2 separate regions of the Homo sapiens genome follow, and region 2 is linked to region 1. The links come from fine-mapping of genetic effects on gene expression. Tissue or cell type: fibroblasts. Region 1 holds a variant in brackets; the other region holds the start of a gene. All regions are shown on one strand. Distances are between the middles of the regions.

What was found. PIP is the estimated chance that this variant, and not a neighbour inherited with it, causes the effect.
Region 2: SDK1 starts here. The variant in region 1 is fine-mapped to the expression of SDK1 in fibroblasts (GTEx, PIP above 0.99).

What each region holds. Positions count from the first base shown.
Region 1 is chr7:3,432,418-3,442,957 of GRCh38, forward strand. The region is part of intron 1 of SDK1 (sidekick cell adhesion molecule 1); the gene reads left to right. LOC124901577 (a long non-coding RNA gene) reads left to right here. Exons shown (of 2, transcript XR_007060196.1): 1 at 1-1,892; 2 at 7,652-10,540. Among named protein-coding and RNA genes, the nearest start is that of SDK1-AS1, 86 kb to the left of the region's middle. The variant G/A (reference allele first, on the strand shown) is at 4,281.
Region 2 is chr7:3,296,081-3,306,620 of GRCh38, forward strand. SDK1 (sidekick cell adhesion molecule 1) reads left to right here and starts at 5,172. Exons shown (of 45, transcript NM_152744.4): 1 at 5,172-5,804. The coding sequence starts at 5,507. It overlaps SDK1-AS1 (SDK1 antisense RNA 1), which reads right to left. Exons shown (of 3, transcript XR_001744897.3): 1 at 6,149-10,540. RefSeq lists enhancers at 3,739-4,251, 4,252-4,763, 5,473-5,973 and a silencer at 4,649-5,198.

The DNA.
Region 1 (10,540 bases):
CTTATTCCTAGATGTGAATTCTCCAGGGGGCAAAATATCCTAAAAGCTAACATGTAAACAAGCTCAAAGGATTAATGTAGTAGGAAGAAATAGTAGTTTGTTATATATTCATGTTGAATTTAGGTAACTATTTTAGTTATTTAAAAGATTACTACCGAAGGGAAGAAACATATTTTGCTAGGTTTCGCATAGAAAAACCTGTGTCTGGCTCAAGGTAATACTTGAATTTTAATAGGAACCTAGGTTTGCTGTCTTCCCAGTGTAGACTGTAGCCTGCACTGTCATAGAAGAGTGTTGATTGATCCGGTTGTGAAATAGATGGATACCCACATTTAAGTTGCTTTTGAAAGAGTCAGTTTCCCTCCACAAATATGGCAACAAAATTCTTTTATAATCCACAAATAGAATTTTTCTTCATCTGAAAGAGATTTCTCCTAAACCAGCCTGAAAAATTGCTTTTCTAGGAAGAATTTCATGGCTGAGCCTCATTCTTGTACAGATTCATAGCATGTTATTACTAACTTGTAAATATTCACTTACAGAAGAGAGTGACTAGAATCTTTGAATTCTTTTATATTGGTGTTGAGGTTTCTATCCAAGTTACGCAGTTTTTCATTCATTTTAGAGGAAGATTTTCTCAAACAAGGATTCTTCGTGGTTGCAAAACCTATCCCCAGAGATTCCAGTCAACATAATTCAAGTTGACCAGTGGATTCTAAGTGTGACAGTACGGTGTTTAGCAAGTCCAAGTGAAACCAGATGGAGGTCAGAGAATATGCCTGGCTTCGTCCACATTATCTAGTTATCTGCCTCAACCCTCTAGTTTCAACCAGCTTCAAGTGAATGTTAAACCAGACTGCTGTAATCTACACATGCTTTCACACTTCAAAAGGTGTGTGTTAGTTGATATTTGGTTTAGTCATTTCGTCTCTTGAGAGGAGGGGTTGAAGTTTTTATTTCCAGTAGTATTTTATTTTATTTTATTGGATGAAGTTGTTTTTATTTCTTTTCTCCAGAAGAGGTAAGGAAGGTTCCTGGATTATTGTATTTGGTTGGTAAACTCTCCTCTTTTTCTCTTTCTGTGTCTGCATCTCCTCCTTTTTCTCTTTCCCTATTTCTTCTTCCTCTTCCTTAGGTTTATATGAAATAGAAACAATTTTCTAGCACAATGACTAAGTGAATTGCTACATTAAAGACTGGCTGGCCAAGAAATGGTTAATCTTTGTATGGCAGGCTTTAGGGACCAACATCAAATACAAACATGTTGGAAATCTTTTTGTCATTCCAGCTCAATTGATTCAGAAAAATTTTAAGAGCAATAGTCAGTGCTTGGAGGAAAAAAGAATACTATTGTAAATTTGAGACGTTCTCATCTTGAACATGGCTCTTGTAAATCACAAGCTTGACAACCTTACAGAGTACATACAAGCCGTGGTTGACTTCAGAAATATGTGTTTTAGACACAGTTTTACATGAAAGTCATGATATTGTAAATATAATGATTTATTAATAAGTTTAACTTTTGTTAGGATACTTTGCGCATAACTACCGCAATGCATTAAGAAGGAAGTGTTAAGAATTTTCATCCCACAGATCTGATGATTTAAAGTAGTGTTCCATTTGTGCAGTCAATAGAAGGAGGTGCAACAATGAAACAGAAACAAGGCAAAATCTATCCATATGGGCTCATCTTATGACCTGTTCTTGCTGGTAATTTTGGCGTATTTTGTGATGATTTTTTTTTCCTCTCTTTTTGAAGGCTCAGTAGCTGTACTACTCACTCTACCAGGCCAAAGAGTCAGCGTGATGGAGAGAAGATTAGGAAATCATGTTTTAAAATTCTTCTAATGCAGATGAATATGTCAACATGATTTTTCTTTCATCAGGAGCCTGTAAGAGAATTTCCACCTTGTTCGCCTTGGTTTTGGTATATGAGGTGGACTTTTTACTTAGGTGTCCTCCCTGTTGTTTTGAGGCTATGTGCCCTACGCCACTGTGGTTTACCCTGAGGAAGTTTGCGTAGCTCGCGTGCCAACCACTTCTCTTGGAGAAGACGGAGTGTCATAACTACAGCTAACATTTATTAAGGATCTTGCATGTTTTTCATTTTAATCCTCACAGCTCCTTAAGTATTATCTCCATTTTGTAGATGGGACATCTCTGGCTCAGGCTCAAAGATGTTAAGTAGCTCACCTAAGGTCATTTTGCCAGCTAAGTAACCAAGCTGGGGTTTCAGCCCAAGCCAACTTTACCGAGTGTGGATGGTTTTAACCAGTTCTCTCGATTTGCCTCCCTGTGAGGTGTGAGTTGTTGCCATCATTAACCCAGGCCTATCTGCTTTTGGGGTTCAGAGTTGGAACCATCTGCAGGGAGTGTAGATAGAATCATGGGGGGGGACAGAGCACACCCTAGTGGAGCCTGCCAAGACTCCTCATTGAGCCCAGAAAACTGAGATACAGGTTAGAATTGGCCATTTCATCGCAGTGTTTATTTCATGTTTTCTCATCTCACAGGTGAGTTTTCTAGAGGAAAGATGATGAAGTAAAATTTTACAACAATTTTTGAATACTTTTCCTAACTGTCAAATCTCCGTCTGGATCCCATTAATAAGATACAAAGTTATATCCCAAAAGTACCAAATTATGTAATTCTTTTTCTGATTAGTTCATTGCAACTTGTTCAGCTTCAAATAAATTAAAGATTTCTTAGTTATTGTGATTCTTAATAATTTTGCAAAAGTCTCTGTATTTTTTTTTTTGAAATCTTTTTCTCATTATTTATGGAAGATAGTGATTGGGAGAAAGCAAAATATTAGGCATTAAAACAGATTATACTGGAGAGATCTATTCCAGTGTGATCACCAAATCCACCTATTTTGATACTTGACTTATGAAGGGGACTGCCTTTTTTTTTTTTTTTTTTTTTTTTTTTGAGACGGAGTCTTGCTTTGTTGCCCAGGCTGGAGTGCAGTGACTTGATCTCAGCTCACTGCAACCTCTGCCTCCCGGGTTCAAGCAATTATCCTGCCTCAGGCTCCTGAGTAGCTGGGACTACAGGCACAGACAGTCACGCCCAGCTAATTATTATGATTATGATTATGATTATTATTATTATTATTTTGTATTTTAGTAGAGACGGGGTTTCACCGTGTTGTCCAGGCTGGTTTCGAACTCCTGAGCTCAGGCAATCCGCCCGCTTCGGCCTCCCAAAGTGCTGGGATTACAGGAGTGAGCCACTGCACTCTGTGGGGGCTTTTAAAGAGGAAGTGAAGGGTAACTCATCTCTATCCTACTTTACATGCCCCACCTAAGTCCAACTCCCACTGCCTGTCTTCTAAGGGACATCTTGTGGCTTGTTCTCTGCTCTGCTCGTATTCAGTCTCTACGTCCCTCATGCTTTCTCATGGATTTACAATGATTACTTACTCTCAAACTTATATTTCCAGCCCTAACCTCTCCAGTGATCATTTGTTAACAAGATTGTGTTAAAGGAAGCAACAAAGGTTCTTCTATTGGATGTAGTTGAAAAAGCAGAACTGTTGCTCTGGCCTAAACATTAACTTTGGAGAGGTTTAAATTCTGTTTAGAAGTTATAAATGAGCTTAATATCATGTGATTTGCATGATAAGTTATTTTAAAGAGTTTAAATCCATGATTGTTCAAAATAGGTTGTTTTATTTTCAATATAATATGGTTCTTAATTGTAACATTAATGAACACTGAAGACATTTTTAAGATTCATTTATGTAAAGTGATTTGATGAAGTAAGCTGACATTTGATGGACTTAGTGGAAGTTTAGACCCAATTTGCATTTCAGTGGTATTTTATGGCTGACTTTAGAAAACTTTTTAGATAGGATTTCTCGGTAAATTAAAGGATTTAGAGGGATGATTACGAAATAATTGATTAAAAAGTGTGCAATATTGGTTTTCATTGAACTTAAGCTTGTATGGGTTCAATTTAAAACCTAATTCAATACATTTTAGATTTTATATTTCCCTGAACCTCTTCTGCTGTATTAATTTTGTCATGCTTGTCATTCTAATCTAATGATGATTTAATGTTTGCAAACCTGAATAAATCTGTATGCAAGGAGTTTTGCTGTGTTTTTAATCAATGAAGATTGAAATTTGGCAACTGAGGTGATAAAAAATGAAAAATTTTAAATAGAAAATGAAAATAATGATTATACTTTAGAAAGTACTCTTATTAATGTTCTTGGCTATGAACCATGTAATATTTTTCTCTTATTTTTATCGTGTAATATTTTGAAGGTGACT[G/A]AACCTTAAAAGAAGTAATTGCCACTAAATCGTGAAGAATGTTTAAATTAGAACAGATTCTTTGTCCTCACTGTCTTCCCCTTTCCCTGAAATCTGTAGTCTAGAGTTGTGAATAAGAGCCAGAAGAATGTTAAACTGCCTTTTAAAAACTCGTCTACCCTCCCCAAGAACCTACATAGACAATAGAATGTTCTGTAATGAAAGTGTATCTTTACCTCATTATTTATTTATTTTATTGAGCAAAAAATGTAGAACATAGAATGTCTAACGGATTAGTCACAATAAAAAAAATTTCCTGGGTTATATATGTAAGGGGCAGCGGCTGCTCCTCTATCAGTCCAGGAGAGCCTGGTCTGATTTCACATTGCTTTTCTTTCCACATGATCTCATGACACTAAAAGACGATTAATACATCCTTTAAAAATCAATACGGGACATTTTACTGTAGTCCTTCACCTTTATTGTTCAGTACCCTTCAGGGGTGAAAGGAGATATTCCAATGCAAAAAATATGTCTGAAAACCTGAGTGGTAAGTAATAAAAGTTTTTTTTTCTCTTAAAAAGTCTTATAACATTGTTATTTCCCAGATTTGAGGGGTGGGCCTTGGGGTGGAATTAAAAAATCAGTGTAATCATTTGTAAGGACAAAATGCGAGTTTCTATAAAGAATGTTTTAGCATAATGTCACTAATGTTTTGCAGTGTGTAGAGAGCAAACTTTAAAAAAAGATGTGAAAATTTACAAACCAGTAATCCTCTATTTCATGTGCCAGCAGTCAAAATTACGTGTGATCGGCTGGGTGCAGTGGCTCACACTTGTAATCTCAGAGCTTTGGGAAGCTGAGGTGGGAAGATTGCTTGAGGTCAGGAGTTTGAGATCAGCCTGGGCAACAGCAAGACCCCTTCTCTACAAAAAATAAAGTTAGCTGGATGTGATGGTGCGCGCCTGTAGTCCCACCTATTTCAGGGGGCAGGGCTAGGAGTTTCAGGTTTCAGTGAGCTGTGATCGTGCCACTGCACTCCAGCCTGGGTGACAGAGTCGGATCCTGTCTCTGCCAAAAAATTAATAATACTAAAAAAATTAGATATGATTAAGGATACCAAAAAATTATTCAGATACCTTAGTGGAAGCTTTGGCTGAATAGAAGTTCCATCTTTTGTAGTACTGAAACCAAGTGAAGGGATTACGTAGTTGACATCTCTGAAAGAGAGAACGCAGTGGTAATGAGAATACTCCCCCTACGTTTGTGTATGAGCCTTGGCAGTTTCTTTTACACTCTCTCATTTAATCCTCTAAGACCTGAGACATTGTTGGGGCAAGTGGAATTATTCTGCATTTTATAGATGAAGAAATGGACTTGGAATAATTAAGTTATTTACAGCTAACCCGCACCCCAGATCTCTTGACCTAGCCCCCTGCATCCTGCCTTTGCCCCAGAGTGCTTTTAATGTTCTGCATTGCATGGTCTTTTTGTTCATTTTATTTTATGTATCATAGTTAATACTAAACTGAACGTTTGCTGCTAAGACCTATATTATTTTATATTCCCAATGAATATGACTTCTGCATAAAAACATTTAACTAGGGTAATCATTTTATAGTATGTGCCTGTTGTCTCTGCTATATCTATCACCTTCATGTGAAGACAGAGAAAATAGAATATGCTGTGTATTCGAAATAATTTCTTCTTTACAATGATGTATTCTAGATTCTAACATTTACATATGAGAGAAGCTTCATAAATGTTACGTTTTCTGTGGCCGCTATTTCTGTCTTATCTGTGCTGTCTACACAGTGAGGACAGCTGCAGAGACACTGCCAGTCTCATGAAGTGTCCATTGTGAAGGCCCATGTGTCAGTGCTGCTGATGGCATGCAGGAGTTGGTCAGTAGGATGGTTAAGAACATGGGCTCTGGAGTGGACGGTGTCTGGCTTCAATCTGGGGCTGTCACTTAGTTGGTGTGGGACCTCTCATCTCTATTGCCAACCCAAGTTTTTGATTCTTTCTTTCCTCAGTAAACTCTTAATCTTTCTGTCCTTGGAATCTTCTCCTTTCACTTCAAACAACTCATCTGTCTTTATCCTGAAAAGTTTATACTTTACTAAGTTCCATCATTGGCAGCAACCCTGTTTTCTTCCCCTTTGTATTAATATTTTTTTTTTTTTTTTTTTTGAGATGGAGTTTCACTCTTGTTGCCCAGGCTGGAGTGCAGTGGTGCGATCTTGGCTCACTGCAACCTCTGCCTCCTGGGTTGAAGTGATTCTCCTGCCTCAGCCTCCCGAGTAGTTGGGATTACTGTTGCCTGCTACCACGCCCAGCTCACTTTTGTATTTTTAGTAGAGATGGGGTTTTACCACGTTGGCCAGGCTGGTCTCAAACTCCTGACCTCTCGTGATCAGCCTGCCTCAGCCTCCCAAAGTGCTGGGATTACAGGTGTGAATCACCATGCCCGGCCCCCCTTTCTATTAATTATCCAACATCTCAAATGTGCAGTTCATCACATTTTTGGGGTGGTGGTTAGACACAATATAGTTAACCTATTTAGATAAATAAACTCTTTTATTTCCCCTGAGTGAACATTTCATCTAAAACGTGTGTCGCTTTCTTGCTTAAAAACCAATAAAGCTAATGTTTCTCAAGTCATCATATATGAGTAGCATGCAAGCTCCGGATGCAGCTGTTCCTCTAGAGACTACTGTTGCGCTCCTTACAAGCCTCTAGAGCACTAGTGAAGAGTAATGTTAGATTGTTTCGGGTTTGGTCAACCTTTCCTAAGACTCAGTGGACAGCAATCAGTTAATGTGCCAAGAAGCATAAGCTAAATCCAGATTGCAACATACTACTCATTCTGAATCTGTAAGGGAATGCCTCTGTGAGTCACTGTTGTGGGAATGTCCTGGGATGGCATAGTTAATACTTTCTAATGGGATTTAAAAAGTCAGTACATTTCTCTTTTTGAATTTGTTTCTTAATGATCTGATGCACTTTTGGATAAGATACAGCTTGCTTTATAGAACAGAAAAAACATTGTCATTTATACATGATTTAGCTTTATGATCATGATTTAAAGCCACCAGCTTTGTGGGAGGAAGATAGTGAGAATGGCCATGACAGCTTTAACTACACCCTTGAAGACCTCCTTGCTTACTAGAGGGCACTGTGCTGTCCTCAGATGCCCTGAGGCAGGTCAGATTGGGATAATAATTACATTAACTCCCAAACTACCCTGTGCTGGACTTTTTTTTTAAGTTATAGCTCTATGGAGATATAATTGAAATATAGTAAATGGGAAATATTTAAGATATATAATTTGATATGCTTTGACATATTCACAGTAGTCCCCTCTCACCTGCATATTCATTTTTTTGTAGTTTCAGTCACCTGTGGTCCGAAAACATTAAATGGAAATCCGGAAGTAAATAATTCATCAGTTTTAAATTGTGCACCGTCCTGAGTAGTGTGATGGAATCTCGCACCATCCCTTGTGCCCTGTAAAATGAAGGTGTATTCCAGAGAACAAAGGAAGGATGGAGCTTTTATAGAGCATCTTTCTGCCCAGGTTTGCATTCAGGTATATTTTTTCAAATGAAGGAGTCCACCTTGCTTAGTTCAGGTTGCTCAGTGCAAGTGATTTCTGATTGGTTGGTGCAGGCTATACAGTCTGTTGGTTCAGGTGGCCTGAACAGGAATGGTAAGCTGCGAAGGTTCGGAGTTAAACAGATGTGTAGGTTTTCTGGAAACTTGGGGTACATGTGTGACCATTAGACTCAGTTAGCCCCTCAGGATTCATCTTGAGGGATTTGCTCTTTGAGGTTCACAGTGATCAGATCAACTGTTGCAGTATCTCAGTGCTTGTGTTCAAGTAACCCTTATTTTAATTAATAATGACCACAAAGTATAGGAGTAGTGTTGTTGGCAATTAGGATGTGCCAGAGAGAAGATAGAAAGTGCTTCCTTTAAATGAAAAGGTGAACGTTCTTGACTTAAGAAGGAAAGAGAAAAATATGCTGAGGTTGCTAAGATTAAGAACAAATCTATCCATGAAATTGTGAAACAGGACAAGTAAATTTATGCTGGTCTTGCTGTTGCACCTCAAACTGCAAAAGTTATGGCCACAATGTGTATTAAGTGCTTAGTTAAGGTGGAAAGGTAAATTTGTGAGTGGAAGATACGAACCAAAAAGATGTTCCAATTGACAGCAATGTGTTGTGCCAGAATCATTCAGCCTATATGACGACTTGAGCAAGGGATCCCTTGAAATGAGTTACACCAAGTGAGGGATAGTTACACAGATTCAAGAATACAGATAATCAGTAGTAGCCTAATGCTGCGTCACAATGCATACGTCTTTCACCCTACTTCATCTCATTACATAGGCATTGTACCATGTCACATCATTACAAGAAGAAAGGTGAGTATAGTACAGTGAAATATTTTGAGACAGCCCATGTTCACATAACTATTATTACAGTATGTTATAATTCTATTTTATTACTAGTTATTGTTAATATTTTATTTTATGATTTATAAATTAAACTGTATCATAGGTAAATATGAATAGGAAAAAACAGTATATATAGGGTTCAGTACTATCTGGTTTCAGGCATTGACTGGGGCCTTTGAATGTATCTCTTGCAGATAAGGAGGACTCTTGTACATCATGACATGTGTGGATCCAAAATCTCAAAAAAACAAAAAACAAACAAAAAAAAACCAAAATCTCTTTTTGTGTGTGTACATGAATTGTTCCAGCACCATTTGTTGAAAAGGCTTCCCTTCCTTCACTGAATTGCCTATTCACTTTCTTGGAAATCACTTGTCCATGTATGTGTGGATCTATTTTTGGACTCTGTTTTGTTCCGTTGATACATTTGTGTCTCTTTGCAACCACTCTATTTTGATTGCTGTCACTTCATCATAATTCCTGAAGTCAGGTATCATTAGCCTCCCAACTTTGTTTTCCTTTTTAGAAACAGCTTGTTAGTTTCTACCAAAAGATATCCTGAGATTTTGACTGGGATTGCATTGGATCTTGTAAATCAATTTGGGTAGAATAGACATCTTAACAACATCGAGTCATTTCTGAGTCTCTCACATGTAAAACCATTATCTGCGTTTAAAATGTAAACCACTCAGTGTCACCGATCATAAACCAAAAGTGATACTTAGGGTACCTTGAAATTACATTAAGCAGAACACTGGGAATTGGTCTTTTTGCTTGATTTGCCTGAGTGATTCTCCACAAAATCCCCACTTAATATGATAGGTATGAATACGGGATGCCTTATCCAGAGCAGCTCTCCACAAGCATCCTCACGCCACAGATGCCAGTTGACCGTTACGTGTACTCACCTAGCCTGCTGGTACCTGCCAGATGGTGGGCATTTTGGGTGAGATTATGATAGATTTAAGCCAGAGGTTCAGGAATATCCACATTCTCCAAAAAAGAAGATTAAGCCATTATTATTGGGAGCAGCCTAATTCTAGTTATGAAGGAAAGAGATCAGGGTGCCATATGTACTTAGATAGCCATGTCTTTTATAGCACATAGCCTTTCATGTTAAAGCTCCGCATTTTTCTAAAGGAGTATTGATTATAGTAAGGAAGCCAAGGTTCAACTCGTGTATGTGTCAGGTAGCTGGATCATTCATTACCACCATAGGTGACACCCATGTTGATCAGTTACATAAAGACCACAAATGGAATGGTAACTGGGTCATTGCAAATTAACCCTTTCTGAAAGACAGTTCAGGACATATTTATCCTTGAGAGTGAGCCTACACTATCCTCCTAAGACCTCTCTTTTAAGTGGAGAATATACATTTTGGAAACAAGGTTGTATTGTGGTTGAGGGCATGAAGTCAACCTGCCTGAGTTCAAATCACCACTCTGCCCTTTTCTAACTTTTCAAATTTAGGGATTCACTTAGTTTCTCTAAGCCTATTTTCTTTGAGAATATGGAAAATTATTATAGTAACATGGGGAAATTAAAAGTGAGTAATTGTACAAGTTTAGTGCACTTGATATGTTTTGTTTTTAGCATATTTTCTCCATTTTTCCTTTTTCCTTTTGTGTGTTCTTGTTGCCAGTGACTACCTGTGAAATGTAAACTGTTGAGTGAACTGCTTTTGCTTTACTTTCTGTGAATTACTTGTTCTACTCACTGTGTTCTGTCTCTTCCATTCCCTCCGAACACTTTTGATCTTTTCGTTTTGCCCCAGTCTTCTTTCATTTAAAAACTAATTTCTCCCAAGAAGCCT
Region 2 (10,540 bases), 140 kb before region 1:
ACTTACACTAAGAATAAATGAATGCTCATTTCCTCATAGTCTTACCACACATTTGCCATTATCAGTCAGTCCTTAAACATTTTTTACAAGCCTCGTTGCTTTAATTTTTCACTGTTAAGATCAATTTCTGGCTGGGCGCGGTGGCTCACGCCTGTAATCCCAGCACTTTGGGAGGCTGAGGCAGGTGGATCACTTAAGGTCAGGATTCAAGACCAGCCTGGCCAACATGGCAAAACCCCGTCTCTGCTAAAAATACAAAAATTAGCCGGGCATGGTGGCATGAGCCTGTAATCCCAGCTACTTAGGAGGCTGAGGCAGGTGAATCGCTTGAACCTGGGAGGCAGAGGAGGTTGCAGTGAGCCGAGATCACACCACTGCCCTCCAGCCTGGGTGACAGGTGAGACTCTGTCTCAGAAAAAAAAAAAATCAATTTCTTGGTGCATCTCTTCATTTATTTTCTCTTTATATCTCTCTGCCTGTTACTATTCTTTGGTCTTTTGTTTTTTGAGATGGAGTCTCGCTCTGTGGCCTGGCTGGAGTGCAGTGGCACAATCATGGCTCACTGCAACCTCCCAGGCTCCAGTGATCTTCCCACCTTAGCCTCGAGGGTACCTGGGACTACACACACATGATAATTTATTTATTTATATATTTTTTTGAGAGATGAGGGTCTCACTATGTTGCCCAGACTGGTCTCAAACTCCTAGGCTCAAGTGATCCTCCCTCCTTGGCCTCCCAAAGTGCTGGGACTACAGGCCTGAGCCATCACACCCAGCCTCTGCTCATTTTTCTATAGGGCTTGTTCATCTATTTTTCTTATTGACTCATAAAAGCTGTAAGTCTTATTGACTAACATAGATAGTAACATTTTCTCCAGTTTGTTAGTTTTTTTTCACAGTGCCATACAGATGCTTTTGGTTTTGAATTGGTATACAGTTCAAGCTACTGATGTTCTAGAAAGTTGCAAATTGTCCTTTTAAAATAAAAATATTTCTATCATTTAAAAAAGGTTCTCTTTTATGTGATGGCCCATAAGAAAAAGGAGGAGAAAGGACAGAATGAAGCAAAAGAGGAATGAGGGCTCTATTATATTCCTCAGACTCAACGGGATTGATGAGTGATTTTCGAACTTTCATTTACACAGGAATCACTTGGAGATCTTTGAAAATGCAGAGTATGAGTCAGCAGGTCCGGGACTGGGCTTGAGATTTTGCATGTCTAACAAGCTCCCAGGTGAGGTAGATGGCCCACGGGCCATACCTGGAGCAGCAGGCTTTAAATCACAACAAGGGAAAGCACTGCTGGTTTCATGGATCATCCTAACGACGTGAAAATTATCATCTGTTTTGAAAACTCTTCCTTCTCTCTTTTTAATTAAGCAGGGAAAATTCTAACTTCTTATTCTGGAAAGTAGGAGATGGCCAGGGCTCATTGGGGGAAGGAGAAGAAGAAGGAGAAGGAGAGGAACAGGAAGAGGAAGAGGAAGAAGACAAATAAGTGGAAGAGGAGGAGGAAGAGGAAGAAGAAGAGGAAGAGGAAGAAGATGAATAAGTGGAAGAAGAGGAGGAGGAAGAGGAAGAGGAAGAAGAAGAGGAAGAGGAAGAAGACGAATAAGTGGAAGAAGAGGAGGAGGAGGAAGAGGAAGAAGGAGGAGGAGGAGAAGAAGAAGAAGGGGAAATAATAATAATCAGTTTTCATGGAGTAACATCCCTCCACCTCATGGCCTTTAGCGTATATGGTTACAATTTTTAATGGCAAGTATGCAGGTATAAAATGCTCACTTCTTGAGGCCCTCTTGTAGGGCTGGGCAAAATGAAGTTGAGAGATTCACTGGCCTTAAGGGCAGAAATATTCCAGCCCCCTCCTGGCTGTCTCCCCTCCCCAGCATTATAAAGGGGTTTCTCTGTATTATTGTTTGAGAAAGAATAGCTGTAGTCTAAACACAGGCCCCAAAATGGTAACCTAATAGGTCCTGTGAAAAGCAACATGGTCGGGGCGAGGAAAAACAAGTCTCAGAACAGGACTCAGGAGAGCTGGATGCTTGTTCTGGCTTTAGCACGGTTGCTTCGCATGTATTAAACTTTCTAGGCTTGGCTTCTCCAACTGTAGAATGGAGATTAGAGTAGAACCTTATTTCTCAAGGCTGATATTGGGATAGGAAGAAAAAAAAATTTCTTGGAGAGGTTTCCAGACCTTCTGTAGTAACAGTGAGGTCACTGATCTGTCTTTTTTTTTTTTTTTTTTTTTTTTTTTTTTGAGACAGAGACTCACTGGGTCACCCAGGCTGGAGTGCAGTGGCACGATCTCGGCTCACTGCAACCTCTACCTCCTGGATTCAAGCGATTCTCCTGCCTCAGCCTCCTTAGTAGCTGGGATTACAGGCGCCCGTCACCACGCCCAGCTAATTAATTATTTATTTATTTATTTATTTATTTTTTAACTATAGATGGGGTTTCATCATGTTGGCCAGGCTGGTCTCATACTCCTGACCTCAAGTGATCCACCCACCTTGGCCTCCCAAAGTGCTGGGATTAAAGGCGTGAGCCACTGCACTTGGCCTGGTCACTGATCTCTTATAACCTGGTGTATACTAACTTGGCTTTCCAATTTCCAAGCAAGTTTCCACAAAGCTTTCTGCTACCTGCAAAATAAGTCATGGCAAAAGAGGCTCTGGGTAATTTTGACGTGTCCTAAAGTCAAGAAGTTGCTTGAGTTATGTTCGTGCCTATGTGGACTGGAGCGGTATATGGGCACAGGTTTCTACGTGAAAGTGGTGGATATAGATCGATACTGGAGAGGAAAAGGTTAAATGTGCAGCAAACTCAAATGGCGGGGAGAGCAAGGGTAGTTTGGGACAAGGATTGCCACGTTAGTAGAGGGAAAGGAAAACCAGCATTTACTGAGTGTGAATTATCTCACTCTGTCTACTACCCTGGAGATGGGAATTATTCCTAACTTTTTACAGGAACTTGGAGTCAGCGATTTGCCCAAATTTCACAACTACAAAGGGCGGAGCTGAGTGAGACCTCAAAGCCCCATGACTCCACTCTTGGATCACCAGCCTCTATCTCCCAGCAAAGCAGAGGTGGTTGGGGTGAAGAGGAAGGGAGGTGAGCTCCCGACCTTGGGCAAAACACTTCACTTCCTTTATTTATTTATTTATTTATTTATTTATTTATTTATTTATTTATTTATTGAGACAGAGTCTCACTCAGTCGCCCAGGCTGGAGTGCAGTAGCAAGGTATCGGCTCACTGCAACCTCCACCTCCCAGGTTCAAGCAATTCTCCTGCCTCAGCCTCCCGAGTAGCTTGGACTACAAGCGCACGCCACTACGCCTGGCTAATCATCTTCTTCTTCTGTCTTTCTTCTTCATTTTCTTCTTTCTTTTTTCTTTTCTTTTTTTTTTTTTTAACTGCAGACGAGGTTTCACCATGTTGGCCAGGCTGGTCTTGAACTGACCTCAAGTGATCCGCCCGCCTCGGCCTCCCAAAGTGCTGGGATTACAGGTGTGAGCTACCGCGCCCGGCCCACTTCTTTATGCCTCAGTTTCTCCATCTGTACCAGGGCCAGCACCTCTCACACAGCAGGTAGTGAAGCTGCTGCTGCTGCTGCCCTGGGCTGGCCTACAGTGAGTGCTCACTGCACAGGAGGTATTGCTTCCCCCCGCCCAGCAGGTTCTCATTATAATCTTGCAAGTTTGAAGAAACCCAGCCTTGCTACCAACAGAAGATAAAAACAGACATGCCTCTCTGCCTCCAGTCTCATCCCCATGTCCTTGGGGAGCTGTCCTCTTCCGGCTCGTCCCATCTATGCGCCCTCACTATATCCTCAGAACAGGGCACTCCGTGGCTCCTTTAACTTTTTTGCCCCTCCTAGCATGGTGTGGAAAGGGGGCAGATGGGAGGCCTCTTTCTGAAACCACCTCCTGTTCGGCGGCTGTACTTGGACCTCAGTTTCCCTGTTTTGTTCACGTGGTCATTGTTAAGTCTTAGGGGACGTGTACAGAGGCTAATATTGAGCCACCAATCAGTTATTTGACAAATACCATAGGCGCTCTGTGAGCAGGAGCTGGCTCCTATCCCAGACCCCAGCCCTGTGACCTGCTCTCCACTCGCCCGGGGTCTTTCTTGGCTGGGACAATAAACCTACTGCATCAGGTGATTCCTGGGGAGTCAGCCCCGTGCTGGGCTCACACCCAGCCCCTCTGCGTTCATCTCTTACATGATCTCATGCGACCATCATCACACGTCCCCAGGCTCCTCCCGGGCCAACTCCAGAGGCAGTGCGTGTCACCTCCAGCTCTCCTCCCACAAAAATGCTGGCCTTTCAGCCTCCAGTGCGCTTAGTTCACCCCATAAACTCTGCTAATGCTTACCACATGCTGAGCGTCGGCGCCCGTCCCCACCCCCAGCCCCACAGGCTCCCGGGTCCCGCCCTGGGAGACCCTCCCACTGGCCGACCCTGCCCCAAGACTCGCCCACTCCACGGTGGGAAACCTGCAATGTGTCCCTCCCTACCCCGCCCTCCTCCAGCGCCGGCCAAAAGTGACCTTGGACGCTTCTACAATGCCATATCCACTCCTCTGAACAGGAGGCGAGTTTGCACCCAGTGGTGCCTTTGGTTGCTAGAAATTAAAAACCCGATTGCGCGTGTTTGCAATTACGGTAACTTGGCGCGTCACCCCCAAGCACTGAGCTAGCTGGTGGTAGCCGGGCGCCTCTCGGGGCGCGCCCTATTCCGCCCTCGGCCCTGGGCTGCCGCACGATCTGCGCGTCCTGCTGCACCTGAGCCCTTCCCACTCGGGCGCCCGCACCGCTGCGGGGCCGGGCGAGGATGCACCACCCCCGCCCGCGAGCCCGCCACGGGAGCGCGTGCCGAATCGACGCCGCCTGCAGTCCCCACTACGGGTCCCTAGGGGGCGCAGCCGGCGCGGGAAGCCGCCCGAGCCAGGCGCCGCGGCCGGCACAAAATTGCAGGCGGGCGGGCGCCGCGACTTTGAAAACAAGCGAGGGCCTGGGGGGCGGGCCCTGGGAGCGGGCGCCGCCTCCCTCGGCCAATCAACGGCGGGCGGCGGGCGGCGGGCGCGGGCGGCGCGTGCGGCCGGGCTGTGAATGGGGAGCGGCGGCCGCGGCAGCTGAGGGCGAGCGCGACCGCGACGTGCGGGCGGGCGCACTTTCTTCTCAGCGCCGGGCGGGGGCGGCGGCGGCGGCGGCTCCTCCGCGCCCGGCGGACCCCTCGGAGCTAGCGCGGCGGGCTCGGGACTGCGTGAGCGCCGGACGCGAATTTCCCCCGTTGACAACTTCTTCTCGCCCGGCTCGTCCCCGGCCCGCGCCGCGCCCCTCACGCGGGGACCCAGGACGCCGCCCCTCAGCGCTGGGCGGCCGCTCACCTCGGGCCGGGGGGCGCCGCGCCTCCCGCGGAGTGGCCGCGCCCGCTCGGAGCCGTCCCGCCTGTCCTGCCCGCCCGTCCGTCCGGCGCGGCGCTCGGGGTGGCGGCTGCTCGGCATGGCCCGGGGCGCCCGGCCCTCGGCGGCCGGTGGCGGCGGCGGCGGCGCGGAGCCCCCTGAGCGCGCGGGCCCCGGGCGGCCGCGGGGATCCCCGCCCGGCCGCGCCCGCCCCTCGCTGGCGCCGCGCCCCGGCCCGGAGCCCTCGCGACCCCGGGCGGCGCCCGAGACCTCCGGCGGGGACACGGCGGGCGCGGGGCGGTGCGGCGGGCGGCGGGCGGCAAAGTTGGGGCCGGGCCGCCGCGGCTGGTGGGCGCTGCTGGCGCTGCAGCTGCACTTGCTCCGGGCGCTGGCGCAAGGTAGGTGCGCGCGGGGTCGCGGGCCGGGGGCGTCGCCTCGGGGCGCGGAGGCGCGAACTTGAGCAGCGAGAGTGTGTCCGGGGTCCCCCCGCTTCCCGGCCCGGGTCGGGATGCGCCTTGCTGGGGGCTCTAGGGAGCCCAGGGGCTCCTCCACGCCAGACTCGGAGGAGAGGGAAACGGAGCCCCGTAGAGCCTGCACCCCGTCTGCTACTTTGCGTTTTATTTTTTTTATACCGCAGTAGCACAAACAAAAATTTTTAAGTTGAGGACCCATTTCTCAGCTCCTTAAAAGGATGCCCGAGTCCCCTTCCCATTGCATGGATGAAAAAGGGGCTGGTCTGTACCTGAGTCTTCGCACCGCAGGGTCTGGTTTCCGGTGAGTGACATCCAGAAGACTTGGAAATATCAAGTGCCAGTCGCTGTGAAAAGCCTTTTCCAGCCCCTCCCCAGGGCCTCGTCCTCTCCCCAGCCCCCGCCTGCTCCTGACTCCCCCAAGTCCCAAAGCCCGACCCCAAGTGGGTGCTGCGCGGCCGGTGGAGCAAAACTTTCAGTGCCCACAGCTTTTGCACTTGGCTTTGTTTTTCTCCCTCTATTGGCTTCTGTTTAGAATACAGTGGTGAGCTCTGAAATAGGGAAAGAGGATCTGCTGAATGGAAATGACCTTTTGAAACGAGAGATGGGATCTCTTGTGAAACGAGCTTTCCTTCCCAAATCTGGGCTTCCCTCCACCCCCTCCCCGCCCCCGACAAAACCCGTAACGTACCCCTGCCAGCTAGCATCGTTTTCTTTTGAAGTTTGCTGGTCTTTAAACCAAAACACCCCCCTCAACCCAGAAATAACTATTTTAATACGTCCTTTGGTAACGTCTTTAAAACACATTAGTGAACTGGTTTTGCTGATGGTAGTTTTAGGAAAATTAACTTAGTTGTATTCCAAGATACAGCTAACGAACAATCATGGTAAGGAACTCGATATTCTGAGATTGGCGAAGATGAGAGCATTAAACTTAAATTAGCTGTGTTCTGTGTCCTGTGAAGATGATTTATGTGTAGTAACATGACTTAAATGTTGTAACATTTTAAAGGTCTGAGCTCAAAACTATCATCCAATAGCTTAACAACGAACTCATACTTTTTTTTATTGATGCTTATGTAACGTTATCTAAATTGTGCCCCTCCACCCCCCTCCAGCTTTCATAAATGCTCCCTCTTATGTTTTACTACATGAAAACAAATTGCCATATTTCTGGTTAATTTAACTCCTCCATTACTTGGAAAATTTTCATTTCACTTATTTGTGCTTTTTGCTTAATGACTTACTCTGGAAGAAAAGCATTTATTAAGTCATTTTGTACAGTGGGATCTGTAGATTGTTAGAGCAACCAGGTTCAAGTGAAGAAATCTAAATCACTTAGGATGACCTTTAAAATAATGTGTTTATTAAGTTTTCTTTTTTTAAACAGTGACTTGCATTTTGCACTAAGACCTGTACGTTCATACATTTGAAGATTGGTGCACAGACTGAAATGGTGGGGAAAAAATCTGCCAGTGGCTTTGTTTTGAAGTATATTACATAGATTTCAAGTTTTTATCAGTTGCACTTTGAAGGTTGTGTAAAGCATTGCATTTTAACAACTGAAATGTTAATGAAAATACATTTTAAAAATATATTAAGGCAACAACCGAACTTTGTTAGGAATATTTTATTCCTTTTTGGCAGTAAAAACATTGGTACCTGTTTTACATTTATATGGCTTATGAAAGTGTACAGATCTTTTAGTGTAAAATTTCAGATAGGTTGTCACAAATTTTAAGTTCATTGACGGGTTTCTGTTCTCTTTGCTCTGTGAAATGTGTAATATATCCATCTTTTTTTATATCGTATTGAAAATTCATATTACAGAGGAGATGTCACCATTTGACAAAAGCTCATGTATCTTGAAAATGAAAATTCTGGTGCTGTTATAAGAGATTTCTGATGGGATGATGAGTTGGTCATATGTGCAGGAGTGCATTCTCTTGAATCTTATCAGATGTAACATTCTAAATGGAATAGTTACCACTACGTTGGAGCGCCTCCTAAGTACCATATTATTACATTGTAGCTAGGTGAAGCTATGACTAATTTCTCTGCACCTCATGTAAGTAGGCTAGGTCGTGTATTTTGAGAAAAAACGTGCGACATTGATCAGTAAAAGTTACATTTTTATAACCTAGGTTACAGACCCTCTATGTAACTGATCATGATGGGAACCGCCAGGTTCAGGTCTTCCAAATGTAACTTTAATATGCCCTGGAGTTTCTTCTTTCTATGCGGTGATGAGAATTTCTGAGTTGTATGCTCTGCTTATTGCTGTGTGTTTAATTGCTTGTGACTTTCCCGGATTCCTAAAAAGCCAAGTCTTTAATTCTGGAAGGCAGGTGGCAACACATGCTTTCTTTATGCCATCCACCAAGGAGCCAGCTGTGAGTGGTTTGGAAGGATGACTTCTGAGGCTAAAGATGTATAAGCAGTCTTATGTGTGAAGTCCGTGGTGCCTTTAGCTTTACTGCTGGACTCTTTACAGGCTTACTGATTCTGGCAGTGTTCAGTAGACCTCCTAGATTCAGCTTGCATTCCTCAGGCCTAGAAAGGATAGGAATGTTCTTGTCCATGGGGCTGTTTGTTCATAGTCCTCAGTTTCTCATTTGAAATTGTCTCCACTTGGACCTATGGTTCTCCAGCTTTGGTATGTGTTAGAATCACCTGGGGAATTTGATGAAGCTGTAGAGTACCTACTCTTCCTCTTCCATGAGCCACATTTGCTTTCCATGTGATTATAATACACATTGGAATTCGAGAACTACTCACTTATTACCTTGTGTTTCCCCCTATTCCAGACACCTGCTGACTTCCTGGAAACTCTCTAGCCCAGTGTTTCTCAAACTTGGTTGCACATTGGAATCACCTGGAGCTTTAAACTTCTGATGCCTGGATGTCACTCCTAGAATTGGTTTTAATAAACTTGAGGTTTGATCTGGGCATCAGGATGCTGAGACACCCCCTCCTCCCTCCAGGTGATTCTCATGTTTAGCCAAGTTTGAGAACCACTGCTCTAATGGTTTTACGTGAGGCCACATGGCTTGATTTCCCTTTCATGCCTTCCTGGGCTTATTGTCCTCCCCCAACAATTGCAGTGACTTTTATGGACCTTGGGCCTGTGTTCACTTACACCTGTTCCAGGTTCATGATTTGAAACTCAACAGAGTACACTAGCTTTTCACTTATGTATCGTTTATTCCTACTGAAACTGTTGAGCCCCTGCTTTGTGCTGCCTGAGGTGTACATCGGAATCACTGGTGAAAATTTAAAATACAGTTATCTGGACTCCACCTCAGACCAGTTGGTTCTCAGAAGCATGCATTTAAAAACTCCTCAAGTGATTCTTGTATGTTTGTGTTACTTTTTTTATTTTTTATTTTTAATCCTCGTGTTGGTTAATCCCATAATGTCACTCAATTTCTCTGTCATCCTTAGCCTGATTTTTCTGTGGTCTGGGTCACTTTTCTCAGGCCAATTCCCAGCCTTGGACAGGGTGTACTAATTAGGCATTTCTGCCACTTGTTTGCTAGAGTGTTGAGTTCACTACAAATCTAGCTTCCTTTTGGGCCCATGTTGCTTTCCATTAATCCAGAAGTACTTTGCTTCCCCTCCTCCTAACCTACTCCCTTTACAACTTTGTAATTTGAGTTTCAACTGGAACTTGAGTTCTAGACTCCCTTACTTGAATATCATCTTAATAAAGAGTCTTGCTTAGTGAGTGCTCAGATAGTTAATTAAATTTTATTAGGCCACTGGGTATTTAACAGACAACTGGTCTCTTGGTTGGTTACTGTCTTCCAAATCCAACAATAAGCAGTTATTACCCTCTATGCAGTCTGCATAGCCACCTGTAGCTGTCCTTTATTGAACCTTTACGTGCCAAGCACTAAGTGCTCATTTATTCTTCACAGCAGCTCCTGAGAGGTAGACAGCATTTTTGTTCTCATCTTACCTATGGGAAAACTGAGGCATTCAGATGTTAACTAACTTTCCTGAGGTCCCAGGACCAGGAGTGGTGATGCCAGAATGAAAAGTCTGATCCAGAGTCTGAACATAACTTGAGTTCATAACCCCTGGGCTGGAGCGTTTCCCATGTAGCCTCTGCCTTTATAAGGAGAGGGAAAAATGGGCAGCAATCAGATCTGTACCAAAGGGAAAGACGGTGGTTGATATTTTCTAAAAACAGTATTGAGTAATCTGACCTCAAGTTTTAGATAAACCTTATTTACGATTATGATTGCAAAATAAAAATTACATAATTTGGAAAATAGAGATGAGGGATGTATGTAACCCCTTCCATCTACACATTCGTCTCCTCTAAGAAAATGACTATCACCATTTTGATGTATTCCCCTACCCCAATTTTTCTTTCATAACATAACATGAATTCCAGCTTCATGATGGTCTGTTGGCAGAGATTAGACCACCCCAGAATGGACTACTGGGAGTGCACCAACTATTTATTTGAGGAACATTTGGAAAATTCTTTTATCTGCACTGAAGTGTATGAATTTGAGTCCTTTAACTAAAGGAGGTGGAGTTTGTAAGGTACTGATCTTTTATTAGTTTGCCTTAGCACACATTTTATGTAAACAGTTAAGTTTAGGCTATACTGGGGTTTATACCTAACCAGAAGTTTCCTGGGCCCTCAAATA